Homo sapiens: one gene and its partners. The protein of the gene in region 4 purifies or fractionates together with the protein of the main gene of each other region. This does not show direct contact. Each region holds a gene or a part of one and is shown on either strand. Other genes may lie near its edges. The genes, in order: FNDC3A, BTK, EPB41L1, AP3S1, SPG7, EPB41L3 and ESF1.

Region 1 (3,500 bases), on a different chromosome or scaffold from region 4:
TTTTATAATTTTCTTAATATTTTGGTCTTATTTCAGATAATTATTCAGTGGTCTCTTTTTATATCTTTATTCTTACCTTTCTGTCTTCCCACTGTTGTGGTTTTGCTTGTCTTTAATATATACTTTCAAGTTTTCTGTGTAACCTGTGGTCTTCCATCAAGTTCCTTTGTGGGTGTCATCTTTCAATGTTTCCAATCACTTATCACCCATTACCAGTCCTTGGGCTATTTTTTCCTCCAAGATTGAGAACTACACCTGGGAGATGTCATGTGCTTGCAGGGTGATGCAATGTTATTAAAGTGGGGATACAAACATAGTGTGATGTCTTCCTTCCTTCAAGTAGTTTACAAATTAGTTGGGGGTACTAGACTAATAGTATCATTAGCAAAAATTATAATATGGTATTATTAAGTTGTGTGACACCAACTGGAATTTAAAGGGAAGTGAAGCCAGTGAGAGCTAGAACAATCCTGGAAGGCATTTGGAGGGAGTCAGAGGAAACTTAGAAATGATTTAGATAACAAAAGGAAAGGCATTCCAAAAGAGATTCACAGGCAGAGTTGGAAGTAGTAGTAGAATAAGTAGTCCAAGAGCATCCAAGGACAGAAATTGGGACGAAGAAAGAAAGAAAGTTAGGTCGAGATGTTAGCTTAAGCACCAGGGCATCAGAAGAGGAAAATAGGCAGAGCTGGACAAGACAGTTTGTATCATTAGGAACCTATCACTGAAAGAACTATACCTCAGCTTTGACATATTAATAGCTTAAGCTTTATGTATAATGGATAGCTTATATGTGTTTGTTTGTATGGCTTAGGTCAGGGGTCGGCCAACTTTTTGTGTAGAGTGCTAGATAATTAAATATTTTAGGTTTTGCAGGCCATTTACAGTCTCGGTTGAATGTTCTTGTTTGTTTGTTAGTTTTTTATAATCTTTTAAAAACGTAAAAATTTTTACATTGTTGTCTCAAGAGCCAAACAAAAACAAGCCATCTGTGGACTGGATTTGGCCAGGGGACCTAGTTTGCTGACTGCTAGGTAATAATTGGCAAAGTAATTGTCCATATAGCACATACTGTGAAATTTCTTGCATCATCTTGTCTATATGGTGGTTTGGGCGTTTTATGACTATCATGTATATATTTTTCCTTATGTTATCCTAAAAAAAAAGTATGTAGAAATAAGTGCTTCTGTAATTGTTATTTTGTGGCCAGACTTCTAACAAGAGCCTAGAATAGGTCTCAGAATTAGGAAGTGAAAGACGAAAAGCCTTTGAGTCAGGCCTTACTACAGTGAAAATAGCTACACAGTGGCTTGATTTAGAATTTGTATAAGGTTAGGTGTATCAACTGCCTGTGCTGGTTTTACATTTTTAAAAACAGCTGGCAGGTTAAAAACCTTGTCTAGGATGCTGGTGGTCTGTAAGTGACAACAGAGGAGCAGGCAGTAGGGATCTTTGTTTTTAGAAGTAGTCTAGGATGAGTTAATAAAGGGACAAGCAGTTGGACATTCTGCAGTACTCCAGAAAGAATCACTCTGTTATGGAACAGTCTAATAATTGATATTTACATTGATGAGCTTGAGTCATCAAGAAAAGATTATATCATGTGCACATTAAGGCACGGAAGAAAGACCTAGAGATCTCTTTACAAATAATTAAGATTTTTTTAAGATAAGTTATGGTGATTTAAAGGATATAAGTATCAGCTGTTTTGAAAAGTAATTTACATGAAACATCTCTGAAGTTTCTAAATTTATAGATATCTATTTCTAAGGCAGTTCTGTTTCCTTCAGTATACTGTGGTTCATGTGCCATTACCAGGTGAATAGTGATGCCTCACGCTGTGGCTGCACAAATCAATTGGCTGGGGCAACTGTATTTTTTGTGGCATCAAGAGAGCAAGAATACATCATGAGAGCATTTTTTCATTAAGCAGGCATCAGTACATTCCATATATCAGGGTTAGTATTAGGTGCTGGAAAAAGTACAGATGTATAAGATGGGAAGCAACCTGGACAGAATCAGTGATGCTTCTTTCTTCCTGTTAAAAACATTAAAACCAACCAAACAAAATCATGAAACTTAACTTTTGTACTTTAATTTATTATTAGCATTTTTCATACTTAGTACATACAGTACCGTAATTTTAAGGCAATATAAAGCTTTTGATTTAAATAACAGCCTTCATAAATTGCTACTTAATACAATTTTTACTTTTTAAATTTTAGTTTAAGGAGAAATTCATGCCCTCCCTCTTTTTTTGTGAATGCTTGAAACAGCTTCACCATGCCAGCTGTTTCCATTTGCTAAACAAGAGGTAAATTAAAGTACCTTGGATGGTGACTCAAAAGTCTAGTTCTTAGTTCTAACTTCACCACTTATTACCTATATGATTTTGGGTTAGTTTCTTGCAATCTTGGTTTTCTAAGCATTAAAATAGAGAATAATATCTATCCTGTTTTCCTCAAAGATATTGTGAGAACCCACAGAGATGTTGGAAACTATAAAAGCATTAAAATACATACCATAAAAGTGCTTACATTAATGCTACTATATTGGAAGCAATGCAGCCTTTTTTTTTTTTTAAGACCAGAGTTCAAGCTTTATCCTCCAAAGTTCTGTAAACATAGTATGTTTCCAGTAAACATTCAGTTGAGCTCATTGAATTTTAGAACCTATACTTGCTTATTTTTAAAATCCTATACAAACCTGCCAGATATGTGGTGGTATTCTCATTTTACAGATGAACTATACTTCTGATTGACTTCCATATCTCTTTCTCCTTCACTTCTTGAGATCTCTTATGTGCTAGTTGCTAGAAATACAAAGTGCAATGTATACTTTGAAGTAAGCCTTGGTGTAAAAGTTACCTAAGTTTGGTAAATTAGATTGTGTATGTTAATCAGCCTCTATCAGAAATGCTGGGGGAAAAAAAAGTGTTGTATCTGTTTTCTTTCCTCAGAATCCATATTTTAATATATATTTGAACTTTTAAAAACTTAAATGATTTCGCTTCACTACTTCTTCAGTGAGGGATTACTTTAATTGGTTTATGTATATTCTAAACCGACAGACACATAATTTGGGAGGCAAAAAAATCTTACTTCTCTAGGGGTTCTAAACAGATATTTAAGTACACTTTAAATCACAGTTTAGACTTTTATTAGAAAGTAATTACGTGCTTTGCTTTATAGAAGTATATGCCATATACAGCAACTACTTTTGTTGAGCCATAACTTGAAGGATTAGTCATTTCATTTACTTTAAAATCAGTTTTTCTTAAGATTTGCTTAAATAAAAAGTGAAAATTCATAATTTGCGATTTTATGTTTAAATTTTCTAAATTTTTTTTGTTTTCTTAAGACAGACATTCTCAATTATGTCTTTGTTCTTATGACTTGATTTTTTTCCATGTAATATTTTCATTTGTAATATATACCTAAAAAAAATTTTTAGCATAGTACCTTCATAGTTTATGAAGTACCTTTTTGTTTCTTTAGTAA
Region 2 (3,500 bases), on a different chromosome or scaffold from region 4:
AACTTTATTTGTCTTTCTGTGTTTCAGTTACCTAAATTGAATCCTTCTGGAGTATTGTAGGTTTGGGGAGGCTAAATAAGTTGTGTTTCATAAATGAACAGAGGTGGCATCTATATCAGTAAGACAGTTGCATCACTTTTGCATGATGCTGTCTAAAAGAACTAATTTAAGCTAAATGGGGAAAAGGTCAGAAAACAACAACTACCCCCCCCCCACCAAAACCCACCAAAAAAAATTATGTTTTCAACTTTAGAACAAATCTTCTATCCTTTGTAGCTCAGTCAGTGGGTGTGGGCAAAATCAGTTGGGCAGCAGTTAGTGTGTGTCCAGAACTGCAGGTGCAGCCTCCATATCCTTATTAGTTCCCTTGGTTACAGACCCCAGTGGGACAATGTTTGAAAAATTATATTCACCGTCTAGGAAATTGGGAACTGAAAGTCCAATATCTGCCTCAGTGGAGTTCTGGCACCTGCATTATCCCTTCTGGGTATATCAAGATCAACAGCTGCACAGATACTTTTGCTTTTCACAGATTCTACACATATCATATAAAGGTGAATAGTGTAAAGCTACCTCTACACCTTACCAAGCACACAGGTGCGTGCCATTTAACATCTAGAGCATTCCATTGCCTTATACAAGAACTCAGTTTATATGAGCTCACAACATCGAACCAATCCCCCCCCAATTCAGTGTGCATCCATTATACCTGAAACCTGACAGAGCTGGGGGCTGTGGGAGGAGGTTGGTAGGAAGAAATTATTTTGTGAGCTGTGCACATTTTTGTTCCATTTGAAACTAGGTAGCTAGGCTGAGGGGGAACCAAGAGGGATGAGGATTAATGTCCTGGGTCCTCAGGAACTTTCATTATCAACAGCACACAGGTGAACTCCAGAAAGAAGAAGCTATGGCCGCAGTGATTCTGGAGAGCATCTTTCTGAAGCGATCCCAACAGAAAAAGAAAACATCACCTCTAAACTTCAAGAAGCGCCTGTTTCTCTTGACCGTGCACAAACTCTCCTACTATGAGTATGACTTTGAACGTGGGGTAAGTTTCTCGACTATGAAAACTGAGTTTCAAGATATCAAGGACTTGGCCTTAGATCTTTCTTGGGGAAGAGGTAAATTTTCGTTGGTAGGAGGAGGGGAGTAGAATGGACCTAAGTTCTTTCAAATTCAGCAAAATATTTCCTAGCCTATAACTAGCTAAAGCCGGAAAGTCAAAGGTCCTAAGAAGCCACAAGGAAAATATTACCATGGAATCTTGGAATTGATGAGCACTCATTAAATGATTGTTGAAAATGAAATCGAAGAGTTGGAAATTGCTTCCTTACTTCCTATGAGGAAGGTACATACAGTCATTCACTCTTCCATGGTATTTGCCCTCCATTTGGTAGTCATAGATTTATAGATCTGGAAGGATTTTTTTTTCTTCCCCCACATGACAGGTCCTGGTGCCACCTCACTTTGTTGAATGATTAGATAACAAAATCTAATCATCTGGTTGCTTAATCCCTCTTAATCTTTCTCCATTTTCTTCCTCATTCTACTTCTCAGAGAAGAGGCAGTAAGAAGGGTTCAATAGATGTTGAGAAGATCACTTGTGTTGAAACAGTGGTTCCTGAAAAAAATCCTCCTCCAGAAAGACAGATTCCGGTAAGAAGAGACCAATGTCTGAGATGGGGAACAGCAGATTTGAAGAAATTTGCAACATTTAAATTCTCTGTAAATAGACTGGTGATGCTGTGCAACGTGGAACACGGTCAAGTTTCCTTTAAAAATTCTTCACTCTACCATATTGGTTATAAAGAATCTTAGCTTCTTTCCTTCATATTCAGAACATCTCACTAAACATGGAAAATTTGTTAACACAAACTTTTAAATGATGCTATATCTAGTTTTCAAACTGGTCAGAGATCATTGATTTTATTCCCTCAGTTCTCTCAGGATCAGATTTAGAGGCTTAAGTAAGTCTGAATGTCATAATCCTAGGGCTCTGAGTCACATGATATCCTTTAATACCTTACTATTTATTCTCTTCTCACTTTCCGGAGCGAGAGACATAAAACCTACTGATTTTTGAGTTCACTTTTAAAAAATATATATCAATTTCAGTATTTTCTTTTTTTCTTTTTTTTTTCTTTTTTTAGACAGAGTCTCGCTCTGTTGCCCAGGCTGGAATGCACTGGTGCCATCTTGGCTCACTGCAACCTTCACCTCCCGGGTTCAAGCAATTCTCATGCCTCAGCCTCCCAAGTAGCTGGGATTACAGGTGTGCACCACCATGCCTGGCTAATTTTTCGTATTTTTTTAGTAGAGACGGGGTTTCACCATGTTGGCCAGGCTGGTCTTGAACTCCTGGCCTCAAGTGATCCGCCTGTCTCGGCCTCCCAAAGTGCAAAGATTACAGGCGTGAGCCACCCACTGGGTCTGACCATTTTCAGTATTTTCTTGATCACAGGAGAATTGCGTATTTATTACAGAAACTCTGGAATATATAAAAAATACAAAAAGATTAAAATGATGCATAATCCTGTTACCCAGTTAAAACAACTATCAACATATTGGTGTACATAGACTTACAGATGTTTTTCTTCACTGAGAACACATACGCATACACTTATATATATGTCATATATTTAAAACATAGACTCATAGTACACATCTTGCTTTGTAACGTACTTTTTCAATGTAACGATATGTGGGAAACTTTTCCCCATGACAATAGATATTCTTTAATAACATGATTTTAATGACTGTATGGTATTCCCTATTATGGATGTATTGTAATTTGTTTAATCTCCCATTATTACACATTCGGTTTGTCTACAAGTACTTGATAGTATAAACCATGTTGAGAGGAACAATCTTGCATACATCTTTCTGTACTTTTTTTATTCTTTTCCTTATGATAATTTCCTAGAAGTAAAATTTTGTTCTTCTCTTTAAGAAAATCTGTGCACTTTGGTTATTTTTATCTTTTTATTTCATTTTCTAGAAGTGGAATTGAATTTCATACACACCTACAAGCTATGTATGAGAGTGCCTGTTTCTGTACATTTTTTCCAACACTAGATATTTTGTTATTTTTATTATTATTATTATTTTCTGAGATGGAGTCTCGCTGTGTCGCCCAGGCTGGAGTGCAGTGGTGCGATCTCCGCTCACTGTAACCTCTGCCTCCGGTTCAAGTGATTCTCCTGCCCCAGCCTCCTGAGTAGCTGGGACTACAGGCGCCCACCACCACACCCTGCTAATTTTTGTATTTTTAGTAGAGATGGGGTTTCACCAGATTGGTCAGGCTGATCTCAAACTCCTGACCTCAAGTGATCCTCCCACCTCGGCCTCCCAAAGTGCTGGGATTACAGGCGTGAGCCACTGTGCCCAGCCCAACACTAGATATTTTAAATATTAGTTAATTTGACAGCCAAGAAAAATAGCATTTCAGGTGGGGCGTGGTGGCTCACGCCTGTAATCCCAGCACTTTGGGAGGCCAAGGC
Region 3 (2,780 bases), on a different chromosome or scaffold from region 4:
GGGGTGGGGGGCCCTAATGGAGAGGTGTGGGTTTGGCAAGAAAGAAGCAACACAGATGTCGTCCCCAAAATGCCAGTTCAAGACACCTTCTCCCTGCCCCCCTGGTAGTAACAGTCAGGGCCTGGTCTGTGCTCAGGTACTGGGTCCCAGTCTGGGACTCTGCTGCTGAAGTTGCCACAGTAGAGGTCCCTGGCTTAGTCCTTATCTCCCTACGGGGCTTGCCTTGGTTTTCAGTCTTCTCTCTCTTTCTCTCTTTTTTTTTTTTTTGCCACATTCTGCCCTTCCCTGACCCCATTGTAATAACCAACTCCATATCCAAAGGGAGGTGGTGCTCTCAGCCATTGTAGAAGATGGTGGCTTTAACCTGACTGTCTAAAAATTCCCAGCTAAGCCTTTTCCTCTACTCTCTTCCTTGTTCTGAATCATTTCTTCTTCTCAGGCCAAAGTAGCCATGGTAAGGAGGCTTCATGGGGCAGACCCTGAAAGATCAAAACTGCATTTGCAAAGCCCTCCCCTGTCCCAGGACAAAGCTGAGACTGACGGGTGATGTTGCTCATAGGCTCCAGCTCTGCATAAGACCTTGGCTTGGAGACCTCCCTCTCAGTCAACAGCTGAACTCTGAGCTTGTGCCCAGAAATTACCCCAAGACCACAGGAACCCTTCAAGAAGCTCCCATCACAAGCTTGGCATTGCTCTCTGCCACACGTGGGCTTCCTCAGGCTTGTCTGCCACAAGCTACTTCTCTGAGCTCAGAAAGTGCCCCTTGATGAGGGAAAATGTCCCACTGCACTGCGAATTTCTCAGTTCCATTTTACCTCCCAGTCCTCCTTCTAAACCAGTTAATAAATTCATTCCACAAGTATTTACTGATTACCTGCTTGTGCCAGGGACTATTCTCAGGCTGAAGAAGGTGGGAGGGGAGGGCGGAACCTGAGGAGCCACCTGAGCCAGCTTTATATTTCAACCATGGCTGGCCCATCTGAGAGCATCTCCCCACTCTCGCCAACCTATCGGGGCATAGCCCAGGGATGCCCCCAGGCGGCCCAGGTTAGATGCGTCCCTTTGGCTTGTCAGTGATGACATACACCTTAGCTGCTTAGCTGGTGCTGGCCTGAGGCAGGGCAGGAAATCAGAATAGCATTTGCTTCTCTGGGCAAATGGGAAGTTCAGCGGGGCAGCAGAATCAGTGGCATTCCCCCTGGTGCAGGCCGGTGGGTCCACTCCAACTCCCCCTGAGTGTAGCAGCACACTTTCCATACACCAGGTTCTTTCTACAATCCTGGTGGAAAAGCCACAGAACCTTCTTCCTGCCCTTCTTGAGAGTTCCCCCTCTTTCTGGGTCAAGAGCTGGAGTGGTGGCTCCATCCTCTCTGGGCCACTTCGGTCTAGGAACTCATCTTTGCAGGAACCAGGAGTCCTGAGCACACTGAACACACCTCAGAGGGAGGATCCTTGTTGTGGATTTTGCACCTGGCTTTGGGGCAGGGGTGAAGTGACCAGGCTTAGCTTGTGGAGTTTATGGGCCACCAGGGTTTGGGGAAATCACCATCCCGCGGATGCTGTGACCTCCCTTCTACGGAGATGCAGGCAGTGCCACGAGGGAGGAGGGGACCTGCAAAGCTAGAATCTAGGGCACTGTTTCCTCCCCATCCTTCTCTTTGTAGAGAATAGAGACGTTTGTCTTGTCTGTCTTCAACCTACTTTTCCTTTTCTCTTTTTTGTTTCTCATCCTCTCTGTGCCACCTCTCCACCCAGGAGGCCATGTAGCATAGTGGAAAAAGTCCCTGAGGGCGGTTAGGAGTTCTGGGTGACCATCCTGGCTCAGCTCCTAACTCACCATGTGACATCAGGCTATCCCCATTCCCCCTCTTGGGCCTCAGTTTCCCGACTTGCAAAATAAGCAGAAAGAACCAGATGCTCTCCAGGGTCTTTTTCTACTTTGCTATCTCATGGGTCTTCATTTTCTCTTATTTTGTTTTCTCTGGATCTTTTCCATCTGAGGGTACAGGAAGTACCAGGACCTGTTTCAGTTTTTGAATCCTGCAAGCACATTCCAAGACTGGCCTGAAACTGCATGAGCAACATCACTCGAAATAATTTTTTTTTTCAAAAGCACCTTAACAACCAATTGCGATGCTGTCCTGTTCCTTTTTACTCACACCCTTCTCTCCTTTCTCGTCCCCATGCTCCCCCACCTCAGTGCTCCGTGCTGTATGCGTGTGCTCTCTGTTCTTGTATACTCAATATAAGTGAAATAAATGTGTTTGATGCTGAACCATACTTCCTTGGCACCTCTCCTCTCTCTCTCTCTCTCTCTCTCTCTCTCTCTCTCTCTCACTGTCTCTCTCTGACTTTGGCCACTGGTACAAGTTGGCACTGTGGGAGGGGCTAAAACTGAAGTGGAGACATCCCAACTTAGAACATGTTTATGCAACAAATATTTGGAACTCAAGGTGGTCCAGGCCTTGGGTGACTCTCCAGGCACAACACAAACAAGACAAAAGTCCCTGCCCTTCATGAACCCACAGGCTAGTGGAGGAAACAGATGCCAACACAGGCAAACAGTCCGTTACAGAGCACTCAGCACTAGGAAGGAAATACACCGGGAGAAGGGAAGGAGGGTCACTGAAGGAGACCACTTTAAATACAGTGGCCAGGTAAGGCCTCCCTGAGGAGGCGATCTGTGAGCTGAATGAAAAGAAGGATCAATCAACAAAGGCGAGGAACTTTGGTGCACATTCTAGGAGAGGGAACAGTAAGCATACAGGCCCCAGGACGTG
Region 4 (3,500 bases):
GGCGGAAATTAGATCATGGGGCATTTGTAAGTGCTTACTAGATTTAACTCCATACGTCACAGTAAGTTACACAGCTTAAGACTGATTATCAACCAGAAAAAAAAGAAGAATGACACTTCTTAAGTTTTGGATAGATTTACCGTCAAGATCTCTTCCAAAATTACATTGTTTTGACATAAATGCAAGAAAACTGAGCTAAGATACTAAACTCTTTCATGAAATACTTTTATTTATAATGACTGGAATTTTAGTATTTTAGAAATAATAATTTAGGAATCATTCCAAACATATTTTTCTAAATATAGTTTAGCTATTTCATAGTTAAGTTTACAATAATGAATTCACCTTCTTAAAAGACCCCTAAACACTTACATAATTTACAATCAAGGCTATATGTAACCAAAATTAAACTAACATCCATCCCAACAGAATATGGGAAAATGGCATCTCTCCCTCCCTCCCTCCCTCCCTCCCTCCCTCCCTTCCTTCCTTCCTTCCCTCCCTCCCTCCCTTCATCCTCTCTTTCTCTGTCTCTCTCTCTCTCTTTCTTTTTGAGACAGAGTTTCACTCTGTCACCCAGGCTGGAGTGCAATGGTGCTATCTCAGCTCACTGCAGCCTCTGCCTCCTGGCTTCAAGCAATTCTCCTGCCTCAGCCACCAAAGTAGCTGCAATTACAGGCGCACACCACCACACCTGGCTGATTTTTGTACTTTTAGTAGAGATGGGGTTTCACCATGTTGCCCAGGCTGGTCTCGAACTCCTGAGCTCAGGAGATCTGCACGCCTAGGCCTCCCAAAATGCTAGGATTACAGGCGTGAGCCACTGCGCCTGGCCAGCATCTATTTCTTACACAGTAAAAATAATACTAAACTTATAAGTTCTGTAGAAACAACTTCCCAAGGTATATACTACTTCTATGTCTTCTAATAGCAAAAGGAGAAATGATCTTTGACAAGAATAAAAATTTCCTACTATGCTAGATACTCTTCTAGAGAAGATGTTTAATTTAAAAATATCTACATGCAATTTAAAGATTCTGAGAGTATATTTACAGACTATGACTGCAATTGTTCCCTGAAAGAGGCAAAAAGAACACAAATAGGAGGCTTTACTCCATTCTGAATCAGCGATTTAGTGATTATCTTAAAACTTTTGCTTTACTTTAAAAGGACAGCAAACTTCTGAAGAATATAAGTTTCAAAAAGGCCAGTAATGCTATTAAAAGCAAGCAAAATATTAATGCGGCAAGTACATATTTTGCCTTTAAAAATATAATCTTATCTTTAAGCTATAGTATAATACTGACAAAAATTCCTGTACAGAATGTAATACATCATATAAAACCACAGGACTGAGAAATCCTGTTAGTCCAAATAACTCATTTTATAGAGGAGAAAACTGAGGCCTGAGAATTTAAGTAACCTGTCCAAGGAAATCAGCTAGTTAGTGACAAAACTAGGATTAAACTAGATGTGAGGCCTCATCTCTGCTGCAATATTTGCTTTCTATTTTTTGTAAGGTTAAAAAAGAACAATCACAATTTCCAGCCACAATTTCTAATTCAAATAGCACCCTAGTAAGATTAATCAAGTTCTTACATGCAGTGCACTGTGCTGGGTGGTAAGTTTCCTAGGAGATAAGAAATCAAGAGGCTAGGATGAGAGGAAGTGATAGTAATGTCAAAGACAACTAAAATTAAATAAGTACAAGTAAAATTCAAAAACAGAAGCAGGTACACTTGTCTCAATTATTAAATTAGAAGCCTTGAGTTAACAGCAAAATTTGTAAGTATGTATTGGACATTTAAGGACAGCATGATATAATCTTTCAGGAAACCCAAGTTAAGTGTTCCACATGATAAAAAGTACCTTATGACCATGGATTCCCTGTTATCCAGAGTATTTCTCATCCATCATACACAGTAAAATACAGAAAATTCTAAGTTTCTCTGACTGATTTATGTTTGAGAACAAACCATTTTCATGGAAGTTATTAGTTTAAAAGTATTTGTTTGTAATATTTGGCAATATTCTTATTCATTTTAAAAATAGAAAAATTGATTAGCTGAATTAGGTATATTTGAAAAACAGACTTCAGTCTTGTAACAGTAAAATAAAGAATGTAATCTAATTTTTATGAACATTCACAAAAAGGAATACTCTGTAGTCATTAAAAAGAATAAGCTTGTCCTAGATGTGTTTCTATGCAAAGCTTTTGAAAATACTGAGAACCAGCAACATGCAAATGAGCATACAAAGTGTGATCTCATAAATAAAAATTTTAAGGTTGTAGGTTAGTCAACACATATAACATACTTTATATGTTAGTCAATACAAACTATTTTCTAGAAGGATACACAAGAAATTGGGTAGAAGGACTAAGGTTGAGAGATTCTTATTTTACATTTTATACTTCCCTGTAATGTTGGAATTTTTACGATTTAATATATTACCTTTATATAAAATTCCCTTCCAAAATTTTTAAGAGGAAAAAAGATTGCATATCTTTTAAAAATAATTCTTTAAGTTAGATTTATAGCTAACATAGGTGGCAATTAATTCACCTAATCCAATTAATCAAAAGTAGAAAACTTTTACCATAAACTGATTAAACAGTATATATTTTAATCACATAGTCAAAACTTAGAAATGTCTATGAAATGCTTTACTTACAATCCTCCTTCTAGGAAATTACAAACATTTTCATCTCTCTTAGATACCAAATGGAAAGTCTCCCTGATGATTTGCTGTTGTGTATCTTCACTCTGAGGAAGAATAATTCATATATATTAGGATGGAGTGTATAGGTTTAATAGCATTTTAAGAATTTTTAAAATCAAAGGTAGCAATATCTGTCTGGGAAATCCATCTAAGAGAGGGGTCCTTGGAGAAGTGACTTAAATTATACCTTACAGAAGCAAAACCCAGTATTTTTTGATGAAAAAGAAAAAAAACCCAATTATTTATATTTACCACTATAATAAAAGTAACACATTTCTAAGTTTCAAAAACCAACAAGAAAAAATATTAGATGAATTACATACACTGGTAAAAGGGAAACTAGATATTAACTAGTCAAAGCTGATTATCTTACAAATGAGTAAACTGAATCAGAAAGGTAAAGATATAAATAGTGTAGCTAATCTATATTTGAATGGAGGAAAGAAATAGAACTATGGAGCTTCCAATTAAGTTTAACCTTTACTAAATATAGACTGAGGTAAGAGTCCATCCATCTTACTCATCTTTATATAAGCCGATCTAAAGCCAAGGATTGGGTCAATAAACATTTATTAACCTGGACCAAGCAATTCATATTCCAGTAAGAGTCAGCGTCCTGGCCGGGCACAGTGGCTCATGCCTGTAATCCCAGCACTCTGAGAGGCCGAGATGGGTGGATCACAAGGTCAGGAGATCGAGACCATCCTGGCCAACACAGTGAAACCCCGTCTCTACTAAAAATACAAAAATAGCTGGGTGTGGTGGCACGTGCCTGTAAT
Region 5 (3,500 bases), on a different chromosome or scaffold from region 4:
GGGCAGGAGGAGACACTCCTCAGAGGGTTGCACTTGTTCCTAAAAGCAGCAGGAGCTATTTCGATGATTGCAACATTTATAAAAGAAGAAATCACGACCTCCTTCAACAGCCCTTTGACCTGAAGAGTGTCGTTTTGAGTTGGGGTGTCCAGAGCCGCAGCTGCAGCTCCAAGAGGCAGATGTGCAGAGAGAGGCTTGCTTTGACCACACGGGGCAGGAGCAGGGCCCAGCCAGGGAGAGGCCGGGGTCTCAGCTCACCCCCCCGTCATTCTTTTTTGTTTGTTTTTTGAGACGGAGTCTTGCTCTGTCGCCCAGCCTGGAGTGCAGTGGCATGATCTTGCCCTACTGTAACCTCCGTCTCTCAGGTTCAAGTGATTCTCTTGCCTCAGCCTCCCAAGTAGCTGGGACTGCAGGCGCCCGCCATCACACCTAGCTAATTTTTCTATTTTTAGTAGGGACGGGGTTTCACCATATTGGTCGGGCTGGTCTCGAACTCCTGTCCTCAGGTCATCCGCCCGCCTTGGCCTCCCACAGCGCTGGGATTACAGGCGTGAGCCACCGCGCCCAACTCATACCCCGGCATTCTTTCAGGGACTGCCAAAAAGAGCAAGATCCTGTCCAAGGAAGAACAGAAAGTGGTTGCGTTTCATGAGTCGGGCCACGCCTTGGTGGGCTGGATGCTGGAGCACACGGAGGCCGTGATGAAGGTGGGTCTTGGCAGGTGCCGGCTCCACGGGCCTTGGCCAAAGGTGGGTGGGGAGTCCCGCCTGTGTCTGTAGCTGACTGGGGAGTCCCGCCTGTGTCTGTAGCTGACTGGGGAGTCCCGCCTGTGTCTGTAGGTCATGTGAGAGGAAAGCCTGCCACTGTCATGATCCATGGAGCAGGGTGGGTGGCGACTGATGGGCGGGAACTCGGACGTGGGAGGCAGGAGTGGGCTGTGTCACATCGGAGCATGGTGCTGCTACTGGGGTGACTCGTGGAAGGTTACACCATGCAATGGGGTTTCGCTGCCTTTGCCTGTCCACCCCAAATGACTCCTAACATTGGAAAGAAGTGAGTTGAGTGTACATTTAAAAAATACTATTCTAGGCTGGGCATGGTGGATCACCTGAGGTCAGGAGTTCAAGACCAGCCTGGCCAACAGGGCAAAACTGTCTCTACTTCAAACAAACAAACAAAAAACTACTCTTGTAGGCAGCTGTGAACTCGATGGACATTTATTCTTACCAAATGGTGATGTTACAGCTTCTCTAAGACGTGGCTCCACCACCGGGAGTCCGAGTGCTGCCAAGAGGAGGTCTCTACTCGGAACGCAGGTGCCGTCTTTACAGTGGAGCCCCAGGAAGCCGTGCAGGTTTGAGGCTCACCTGAGAAGGCGGCAGTGCTGTGTTCCTACCTCAGGGTTCACTGCAAACAATGCATACGCTGTAGCAGTTGCCAGCTTGGTTTGTCAGTGCTGGTCTCCGTGATTGGTTCTCAGGTGTGAGTTGTAGCAAAGTTGCGTGTTAATCAGAGAGCGTCCTGCCCATCCCAGGGTCTCAGCAGGGCTGAGGCAGCGTTTGGGGACCAGATCCGTGCTGCTCCTTGGCGATGTGCACCACAGTCATGGGACCAGAGCTAGGCCCACTGTGGGGCGAGTGGACACTCAGCTGGGGGTCCCATTTATGGGACACTAAAAAACTCAGCAGTGAACACGACGTTTTAACACGGTATGTCAAGAAATCAAAATTAATGCAGGGACTTTGGGAGGCCAAGGCGGGCAGATCACTTGAGGTCAGGAGTTCGAGACCAGCCTGGCCAACCTGGTGAAACCCCATCTCTACCAAAAATACAAAAGAATTAGCTGGGCGTGGTGGTGCGTACCTGTAACCCTAGCCACTTGAGAGGTAGAGGCACAAGAATCGCTTAAACCCGGGAGGCAGAGTCTGCAGTGAGCCAAGACTGTGCCACTGTACTCCAGCCTGGGTGACAGAGCAAGACTGTCTCTCAAAGGGAAAAAAAAAGAATTTTTACTGTATTTGATGGGCAAAAGTCAGATAGTCACAATGAAAAAGTGAGTCTCTTTCCCAAGGCTCAGTGTCCTGCCAGGAAAAGGTTGTGAATTGGCTGTTATGGTTTTGGTCATTAATGCAATCATCACTGCAGCCGTTATTTAGAGCTTCTTTTTGTTTTGAGACAGGGTCTCTCTCTCTGTTGCCCAGACCGGAGTCCAGTGGTGCGATCACAGCTCACTGCAGCCTCGACCTTCCGGGCTCACACGATCCTCCTACCTCAGCCTCCTGCATAGCTGGGACTACAGGCATGCCCCACTGGTGGCTCGAGTGATTTTTATATTTTTTGTAGCGAAGGGGTCTCGTTATGTTGCCCAGGCTAGTCTCGAACTCCTGGGCTCATGCAATCTGCCCACCTCTAACTCCCAAAGTACCGAGATCACAGATGTGAGCGACCCCGCCCAGCCTAGTTTTAGATTTTAAATTAAGCGTCCTCGGGATTCTCAGAGCACTTGGATGTGGCCATCTCGCCGCCACAATTCTCAGAAGCAGCAGCTGGGCCAGCCCCTGCCCCGTCTCCGTCCGTCTCCCACTCAGCGGTTCCGTGTTGTCGAGTTAGCTCGTTGCCCCGCGCCACCTCCTTGCACACCTGATGTGGGGCTGTGGGGGAGCAGCAGAGGTGAGGACAGCCTCTGCTGCCTCAGCATCGTGGGGTTCTCATTGCTCTGAACCCTCAGTAGCTGTCGCTGGTGTGAGGGGTCAGCGCAGCGGCCATCGGGGGTGAAACTTGTCCTTCGCCTCTCAGCTGTCTTCTACGGGCCTTGTCTTCTTGACTCCCTGCCTGTCTAGTCATGTATGAGAAGACACTTCCCGGCAGTGTGTGAACAGGCACCTGTGGTGGGAACGCTGCTGTCTCTGGGCTGGCCATCTAGAGTGTTAGGATCCCCTGTTGTTGTAGAGGATGCTGCACATTTGCCTTCCTGCTTTGAGACGCTTTAATGACGGAGACCTCTTAGTCCCACACCTTCCTCCTCAAAGCCCACGCATCCTGCCTACTGACCTGGGTCATCTTGACCTTGTGCCAGGTCTCCATAACCCCTCGGACAAACGCCGCCCTGGGCTTTGCTCAGATGCTCCCCAGAGACCAGCACCTCTTCACCAAGGAGCAGCTGTTTGAGCGGATGTGCATGGCCCTGGGAGGACGGGCCTCGGAAGCACTGTCCTTCAACGAGGTCACTTCTGGTGAGGAGCAGCGGCGCGGGCCCTGGAGGTTTCAGAGCGCTTTTCCCTGCATGACTCCTTCTGTTCCAGTGCATGCCATGGGGTGAATCTGGTGTAGACGTAGCTTTGAATTTATTAAGTATTTTGTAAAAGATAAGTTGTGGTCATAAGAGAGTTGGAGCTAAGCAAGACTTCTTAGATAATTTAATTGGACAAAAACTTAACCTATATGCCAACTCTAGACACATTTAATTGGTTAATTGTTGGTAATGGCTACAGGAAACGGAA
Region 6 (3,500 bases), on a different chromosome or scaffold from region 4:
CACTCGCCAGGATGTCTAAAGCCAGCAGCAAGTGCTTATAACCAGAAACACTGACGAAAAATATAAATTAGCTTTCATTTCTCCCACTGAAATCTCTGATGCCTGCCCCTGCCCCTGGTGCATGCACTTGAACCTGCGCTGCTGCTTCAGGACATCCGCAAAACAAACGGAAGGCAGGATAAAGTGCAATTAACAAAACAAAAACCAAAGCATTGCAGCGCATTCACGTTGGTTTTGGCTGCTTTCTTAGACTCAACTGGTGAGACATAATGCTTTTAGATATTTAATTCTATTAAAATTTCTCAATATGATCGCCTTTCGAATAGTGAAGTACATTCTTGAGATGCAACTAAAGGCATGTGACAGATATGCCAAGCAGACACAAAGGACAATAAGTGAAGACACCTTTGAGATGTTGAAGGCAAAGCCAGCTGGATGCAACCACACACTCACGCCCAAAAAAAGGGTAAGGAAAGGCACATGGGCACATTCAGAAACACCAAGGACGAAAACAAATGGCCACCTGAACCCAGCTTTGAGAAGTAGAAGTAACCCCTCCTATGAATTCTGTTGGTTTTCGCGCAGACTCTAATAAACTGAAGATTTCAGAGCCATCCATGAGCTTTTCCCCAGAAGACTGCTTAGTCTGAGTGAACAAAGAGAGGCAGAGTCAAGCACAAAAGAGAGACACAAACTCAGGCACATAAACATTCACAGCTTGTTAGACAAAATCGTAGGCAGAGGAGACAGGGAGGAGGAAGAACGAAGGAATCTCAGAGTTTGGAAACGAAAAGAATGGGAAATAAAATAGAAAACCAGGTGCTCTTGTTTGGTAAAGCAGAGACGGTTATTAGGATCAGGGTGGCGCCGATTTAAGCAGATATATATATTTTTTCCCCTTCATTGCAAGCCACAGCAGCACTATCACATCTTGGGAACAGGGAGCTGGAAATAAAATGGAAAGTGTTTTAATGCTGACTTTGCACTGCGGTATTGATTTAACCATGAAAAAAAATTAAGAAGCTGGGTTGGCTGCTCTCAACATAAAGCCAAGCAGCAAGAGAAACGGAAAGGTTTGGGGTGGAAGGGGACTGCCTCAAAAACTGTCATGCTGGAATTGCAAACTGTGGCCCCAATGAGTGACACTGGTTACCACTACTCGGGAGGCGGATGACTCAGTAACGTAATGGGCAGTAGCAACGGTAAAGGCTGGTTCCTGGGAATATCTCCATTCGGACAGGCTCTTCCTTCGGGGACCAAAGAGGCCCACTTTTAAGACCTCACTCTCGGGCACTTGCTCTGTTTTGCTGAAGCGTCTGCCTTCCAGGCCAGGGAGGACGGCCACATCCTTCTCCAGCTGTGGAGCCTTCTTGAGGTCATCTTCTTCAGGACTCTGCCGGCGAGACTCGGCCTCCTTGATGGGGGCCAGGGATTCGGACAATTTCCGCTGTGTCGTCTGGACCTCTGGTCCTCTCTTGGATTTCTCATCAGCGAGGGTTTCCAGGACCTCATATTCTGCCAGGCCGGGAATGATCTTCATGGACTCTGGTATTTCTTTCTCCATTTTCTGAAGTGCTTCTGTAGTGGAGGGCTGCTCCACTTTCTCACCCTCTTTAGCTTTCCCAGTCATAGTAACAATTCTCCCGGAGACAGTGTCATAGGATTTTCCTAGAGTGTATATTTTCTGTTTGCTGTCTTCTTTCAGTTGCATTTCTCGAGCCAATTCTTCGAAGCTTTGCATTTTAATAGTGCCAGATTTTAACATGTCAGCTGGGAGATCACCAGTTTTACTGCTCACGGTCACCACCTTGTAAGTCACAATCTTTTTCAAATCACCATCAACTACCTCAGTTGGTATTCTGTCTACAATAACCCAATCCTCTGTGCCCTATATTTGAAATATAAAAGCTAAATTAGAAATTCTGATGGTATCTCATTTCTAAAATAAGAATCCTTTAAGAAAATCAGGGCAACTGCTACATGCAGGTCTGTGATGGGACCATACAGTGCTCATGTTATTATCTAATAATTATGGCTGCAATCTCTTCTCCTCTGAAATGATAAACTATAAACTTCAGCTCAGAATACATTCGGTAGGTAGAGTTGCAACTTCTTTAAACTGGAACATACTTTGCAGTAAATTTTTTGAAGAACAGATTTGCTCTTATGATAAATTTTGGATCATTTTATATTTCAAGATTAAATAACATTATTGATGTTGCTCTATAAGTTACTTAGCTTTACATGTGTGGGGATAAAAGTTTTCCTCGTTAAATATAATCTATACTTCATATACTGTTATCACAGAGAGCTTCCCAACATTCTACAAATTTATGTAAATATTTTCCATATTTGTAAATTGTATTTCTTTATACAGGGAAATGAATCCATAATAGCACTTATTATTCAATAAATATTGAGTGTGACTGTGTTCAAGGCATTGTAATGAAATATTTCCCACAAATAGGACACTATTAGAGCCTCTTACAGTGATCTGTACAGTGTTCGAGTCTTACATTTTTTTTTTAAAAGATGGGGTCTCCCTATGTTGCCCAGGTCGGCCTCGAACCCCTGGGCTCAAGTGATCCTCCCATCTCAGCCTCCCCAGGAGCTGGGACTACAGGCACATGCCATTGTGCCCGCTCCAATCTTATTTACAACTGAAGTTCACTGTCTCAGGAGTTTCTCTCTCACTTTCTTTAGTGTTAGTTCCAATAAGGCAAAAGAAAGGAAAGCTAAGAAACTTTTGTATTCAGGGAGGCATAATACAATATGACCAGGTAGGTTAATAGCTTCACAGATTACAGAGGGAAGAGATATCAAACCAGGAGCAGGTGAGTGCCCTGGTTTACATTTTAAACTAGAATGTTTTCTAGAAACTTTTCTGTTTTTTACAGCCTGAAAACTTAAATCTAGAAATACGTGTGCCTTTAAAAATACCACTACAGATTGATCTACATGTTGTTGCTAGATTAAATGAAATGAATTGAAAGAATAACCTCTAGGGTTGATGGGACAGTTTTCTGGAAAATTATTTGACGAGAAGTAACCACAGAGTCAGCAGAGTCTCCTTCCTGCATTTTCTTTATCACACTTGGCTAGTGGGGAAACCAATAAGAATTCAGAACTTTCAAAATCAGTCAACTTCATCTAAATTAGCACGACTCTACAGGTAAAAACAGGCAGTAAAACAACATTTCAGCAAGATTATTATCAGAAAGTAAGTCAATGACAACATACAGAGAAAAATCAGCTTGGATTAGAAGCCATGAAGAAATGATGCATAACTGATAACTAAAATATTAAGAAAATTCAATTTTCCCTTCCCCAGAATCTAAATCAAAATTATGTACCTACCTTGGTTTTAAACAAGATAAATGTTAAAGGGAAAATAAAAACTAAGAGCATTTTAATGACACTGAAGTCTGAAGACCAATTTCTTCTGGAAAATCCTTTATGTTTGGTTTTTACCTGAGACTCAAGGAATGGAGCGCTTCCTT
Region 7 (3,500 bases), on a different chromosome or scaffold from region 4:
TCAACTGTCAGTCATTATACCATTTTCATGATTTTTGAATATCATTTTTTTATTAAATTGAATTTTTTAAAAGTTAGTTTTGCTCTAAACAATATTCCTAAAGTCACAGAAGTGATAGGGTAATTACATTGTTTTCTAAGATGTTGACACAGTACATAACTATTAATATTTTAGAAGTTTGAGTATCATCAAAAATCTTCTCACTTATGACAATGGTACACATACCACACTTTGGGTTATATAATAATAAAGTGTTGCATAAGAGACTTAAAGAGGTCTTCCATTTCAATGTTTTTAACAATATCAACTGCATTCAGAGTATTTATTCATTCAATAAGTATCTGCAGCCGAGCACAGCTGCTCACGCCTGTAATCCCATCATATTAGGAGGCCAAGATGGGAGGATCTTGAGCCCAGGAGTTTGAGACAAGCCTGGGCAACATGGCAAAACTCTTTGTCTCTACAAAAATACAAAAATTAGCTAGGCATGGTGGGGTGCACCTGTGGTCCCAGTGACTCGGAAGGCTGAGGTGGGAGAATCACCTGGGCCCAGGAAGTTGCGGCTGCAGTGAGCTGTGATTGCACCACTGCACTCCAGCCTGGGCAGCAGAGCGAGACCCTGTCTCCAAAAATAAAAATAAAAAACCCCAAAAAGTATCTGCTTAGAGCCCACAATGTACACAGCCTTGTGCAAGATAATGTGGGGTTACACAAATATAAATGTCTCTATTCCTAGACAGTATTGCTCTAGTAGTGACTGTAAACATTACTACTTATCCAGCTACTTCAAACAAAAAACAAAAAAAAACCAAAAAAACTGCTTTACCATTTTCCCCCAATTATAAACATAATGAATGATCATTACAAACCAAAAAAAGTTAGGAAAATATGGTTAATAAATAAAACAAAGGTGACTAGCAGTAATTTTTCATTCAAAGATAACTGGTTATTTTAGTATACAACCATATCCCTAAATTTCTTTTCTTTAATTTAAATACTAATTTGTTTAAAATAACTGGTCATATCGTTATTTTGGAACCTATTTTTAAAACTTCATAGATCACAGATGTTTGCATATATTTAATTAATCTCTTAATGATTTGTTACCATTTTAATTTCTATTTTCATTTTTTGAGACAAGGTCTTGCTCTGTTGCCCAGGCTGGAGTGCAGTGGCACGATCTTGGCTCACTGCAACCTCTACCTCCTGGGTTCAAGTGATTCTCGTGCCTCAGCCTCCCAAGTAGCTGGGATTACAGGTGTGCACCACTATGCCCAGCTAATTTTTGTATTTTTAGTAGAGACCGGGTTTTGCCATGTTGGCTAGGCTGGTCTCAAACTCCTGACCTCAAGCAATCCACCCGCCTCGGTCTCCCAAAGTGCTGGGATTATAAAGGTGAGCCACTGTGCCCAGCCAGTTACCGTTTTATTTTAAAAATAATGCTGCAATGCACATTCTTTGCACACATCCAATTATTTATGTAAAATAGATTCTGAGGAGTGCAAGTGCTGGGCATGAACATTTCATGATGACAAATATCACACTGCAAGTCCTCACATCACCTTTACTTCACAGCACTTAAAAAGGCCCTTGCACACAGTAATTGCTGTAATAACTGATGAATGGATAATGAACAGAAGATTATATATGGAGCCGTGTAATCCTTATTTATGAGTAATGCCTTTCCTAGACTGTGGAACCAACAAAATTACTGCAAGCAATGTGGTGGGGTAGAAGGAGTCAGAAGACTTGAGTTGCAGTTCCAGGTCTGCATGTCCTTACATAAGTCACTTTAATCTTGTTCGCTGATACAGTCTTATTGCTCAAGGTAACTAAGAAAATTAAATGAGAAAAGATATGTAAAAAAGTCTGTAAAATCAATCTAAAGGATTATATAGCTATGTTATATTAATTCAGTGCCCCAAATGAAGTGGATGCTAGACTAACTTACCTCACTAATTCAGTGTCAAATCAACTTTGCTGCCGGTCCCACTCCAATCTTATTCTTCAATTTTAGTAACCGGATTCCTATCCTTTCTTCCCACACCTCAAGAGGTCTGCTGCCTGGTTCCACTACAAATGTAAAATGGGATACCACCACTGACTCCCTAGTCCTTGCTATCCAGAATTCACTCCACTGCCTGATACCTTCTACCCTCACAGTGTGATCTCTGCTTATCAAGACCTCTTGGCCTATCAAAACCTCTTGGCCTATCAAGAACTCTTGGGCTATCAAGACCTCTTGGCCTATCAAGACCTCTCGGCCTATCAAGACCCCTCCTTGGATCCTGTAATCACAGGTCTGGCTCATGTGAACTACTACTGGTTTTCAGTTACATCTTCAACTATCAGCAACATCAACACTCAAAATTGCTTGCTGCTGGAGGTGACAAAAAATTTTAATTAGTAAACACGTAATGCAAACTAGAGCCAGCTGTCTCTCACCTAGTTCCAAACAATCATTTCTCGCTGCTACTCATTTTGGCCCTTCAAGACCTTATTATCTAATCAAACGGGACTACTGACCTCTTCTGAACATGCCCAATCACATCTTTGCTCAAAAAGTTCTTTCCATGTAGCACACTCTGGTCCTCAAACTTAAATTTTTCCACACCCCAAAGTAGTGCGTCCCCTATGAATTTTTCTGATTACCACATCTTGAGTGACTTCTTCCTCCAGATTTCCATGGCTTTCTGCTAAACATCTTTTACGGCACTTACTATTATTGCATTTTGTATTATGGTTCTGACTTTCTTCTACTTTAGATCTATATTGTCCAATATGGTAGCCAGTAGTCACATGTGGTAACGGAGCACTTGAAATGCGTTTTGTCTAACTTGACATTAATATGAAAATAGTATTAGTATGAAATGAGTAGAAAATGGGATGTAAAATATACATTGACTTTTATATTGATTACATATTGAAATAATTTTGATATATTGGGTTACATAAAATATATTATTTAAAATAATTTTACCTGTTTCATCTTACTTTTTAATGTGGTTACTAGAAAATCCAAAATTATGTATTTCTACTAGACAATGTTGCTTTAGACAGGGGCCACTGCACAAAGTTTAGCAGGCTGTTATCCGCACAGGGGCATTTATAAAAGGACAAGAAGGGCTAAAATCAAGGCCATCCTACACTCACCAAGCCATGCACTCTGGAGGGGGCTGTGTCTGCTCAGGGGCAAAAAATCTGTTGCTTCAAAGGCGCCATCTCTTCACCAAAGTGTGACCCCTGGGAGCTCTGTGTGTCCAGAGAGCATGCCTTTTTCTAATTTGCATAAAGGCATCATATAAGCTAGCGACAGCCCTGAGATGGGTGACGACGCCTTACTCATATTCTGCCTGCCACATACTAGTGGCAAAGCAACTGAACAAATTAATGAATGAGTACTCAACTCTACTTACCCTCTTATTTTATTTTTGAGACGGAGTCCTACTTACCCTATTTATTTTATTTTACTTTTGAGACAGAGTCTCGCTCTGTCAGCC

What was found.
Region 1: the proteins of AP3S1 (region 4) and FNDC3A purify together in Homo sapiens (affinity purification with mass spectrometry; one large-scale study listed by BioGRID and IntAct). This does not show direct contact.
Region 2: the proteins of AP3S1 (region 4) and BTK purify together in Homo sapiens (co-immunoprecipitation; one large-scale study listed by IntAct). This does not show direct contact.
Region 3: the proteins of AP3S1 (region 4) and EPB41L1 purify together in Homo sapiens (co-immunoprecipitation; one large-scale study listed by IntAct). This does not show direct contact.
Region 5: the proteins of AP3S1 (region 4) and SPG7 purify together in Homo sapiens (affinity purification with mass spectrometry; one large-scale study listed by BioGRID and IntAct). This does not show direct contact.
Region 6: the proteins of AP3S1 (region 4) and EPB41L3 purify together in Homo sapiens (affinity purification with mass spectrometry; 2 studies listed by BioGRID and IntAct, with this or other methods). This does not show direct contact.
Region 7: the proteins of AP3S1 (region 4) and ESF1 fractionate together in Homo sapiens (co-fractionation; one large-scale study listed by BioGRID). This does not show direct contact.

The regions. Positions count from the first base shown.
Region 1 is NC_000013.11:48,978,912-48,982,411, forward strand, and holds part of FNDC3A (fibronectin type-III domain-containing protein 3A), read left to right. Parts: intron 1-3,500. UniProt on the Homo sapiens protein: Mediates spermatid-Sertoli adhesion during spermatogenesis.
Region 2 is NC_000023.11:101,372,692-101,376,191, reverse strand, and holds part of BTK (tyrosine-protein kinase BTK), read left to right. Parts: intron 1-877; coding exon of another isoform or gene 878-907; coding exon 908-1,048; intron 1,049-1,557; coding exon 1,558-1,656; intron 1,657-3,500. UniProt on the Homo sapiens protein: Non-receptor tyrosine kinase indispensable for B lymphocyte development, differentiation and signaling. Binding of antigen to the B-cell antigen receptor (BCR) triggers signaling that ultimately leads to B-cell activation.
Region 3 is NC_000020.11:36,230,520-36,233,299, forward strand, and holds the end of EPB41L1 (band 4.1-like protein 1), read left to right. Parts: 3' UTR 1-2,280; downstream 2,281-2,780. UniProt on the Homo sapiens protein: May function to confer stability and plasticity to neuronal membrane via multiple interactions, including the spectrin-actin-based cytoskeleton, integral membrane channels and membrane-associated guanylate kinases.
Region 4 is NC_000005.10:115,865,935-115,869,434, reverse strand, and holds part of AP3S1 (AP-3 complex subunit sigma-1), read right to left. Parts: intron 2,766-3,500; coding exon 2,674-2,765; intron 1-2,673. UniProt on the Homo sapiens protein: Part of the AP-3 complex, an adaptor-related complex which is not clathrin-associated. The complex is associated with the Golgi region as well as more peripheral structures.
Region 5 is NC_000016.10:89,549,903-89,553,402, forward strand, and holds part of SPG7 (mitochondrial inner membrane m-AAA protease component paraplegin isoform 1 precursor), read left to right. Parts: intron 1-591; coding exon 592-707; intron 708-3,076; coding exon 3,077-3,233; intron 3,234-3,500. UniProt on the Homo sapiens protein: Catalytic component of the m-AAA protease, a protease that plays a key role in proteostasis of inner mitochondrial membrane proteins, and which is essential for axonal and neuron development.
Region 6 is NC_000018.10:5,397,498-5,400,997, forward strand, and holds part of EPB41L3 (band 4.1-like protein 3), read right to left. Parts: coding exon of another isoform or gene 3,472-3,500; intron 647-3,471; coding exon 524-646; intron 1-523. UniProt on the Homo sapiens protein: Tumor suppressor that inhibits cell proliferation and promotes apoptosis. Modulates the activity of protein arginine N-methyltransferases, including PRMT3 and PRMT5.
Region 7 is NC_000020.11:13,778,420-13,781,919, forward strand, and holds part of ESF1 (ESF1 homolog), read right to left. Parts: intron 1-3,500. UniProt on the Homo sapiens protein: May constitute a novel regulatory system for basal transcription. Negatively regulates ABT1.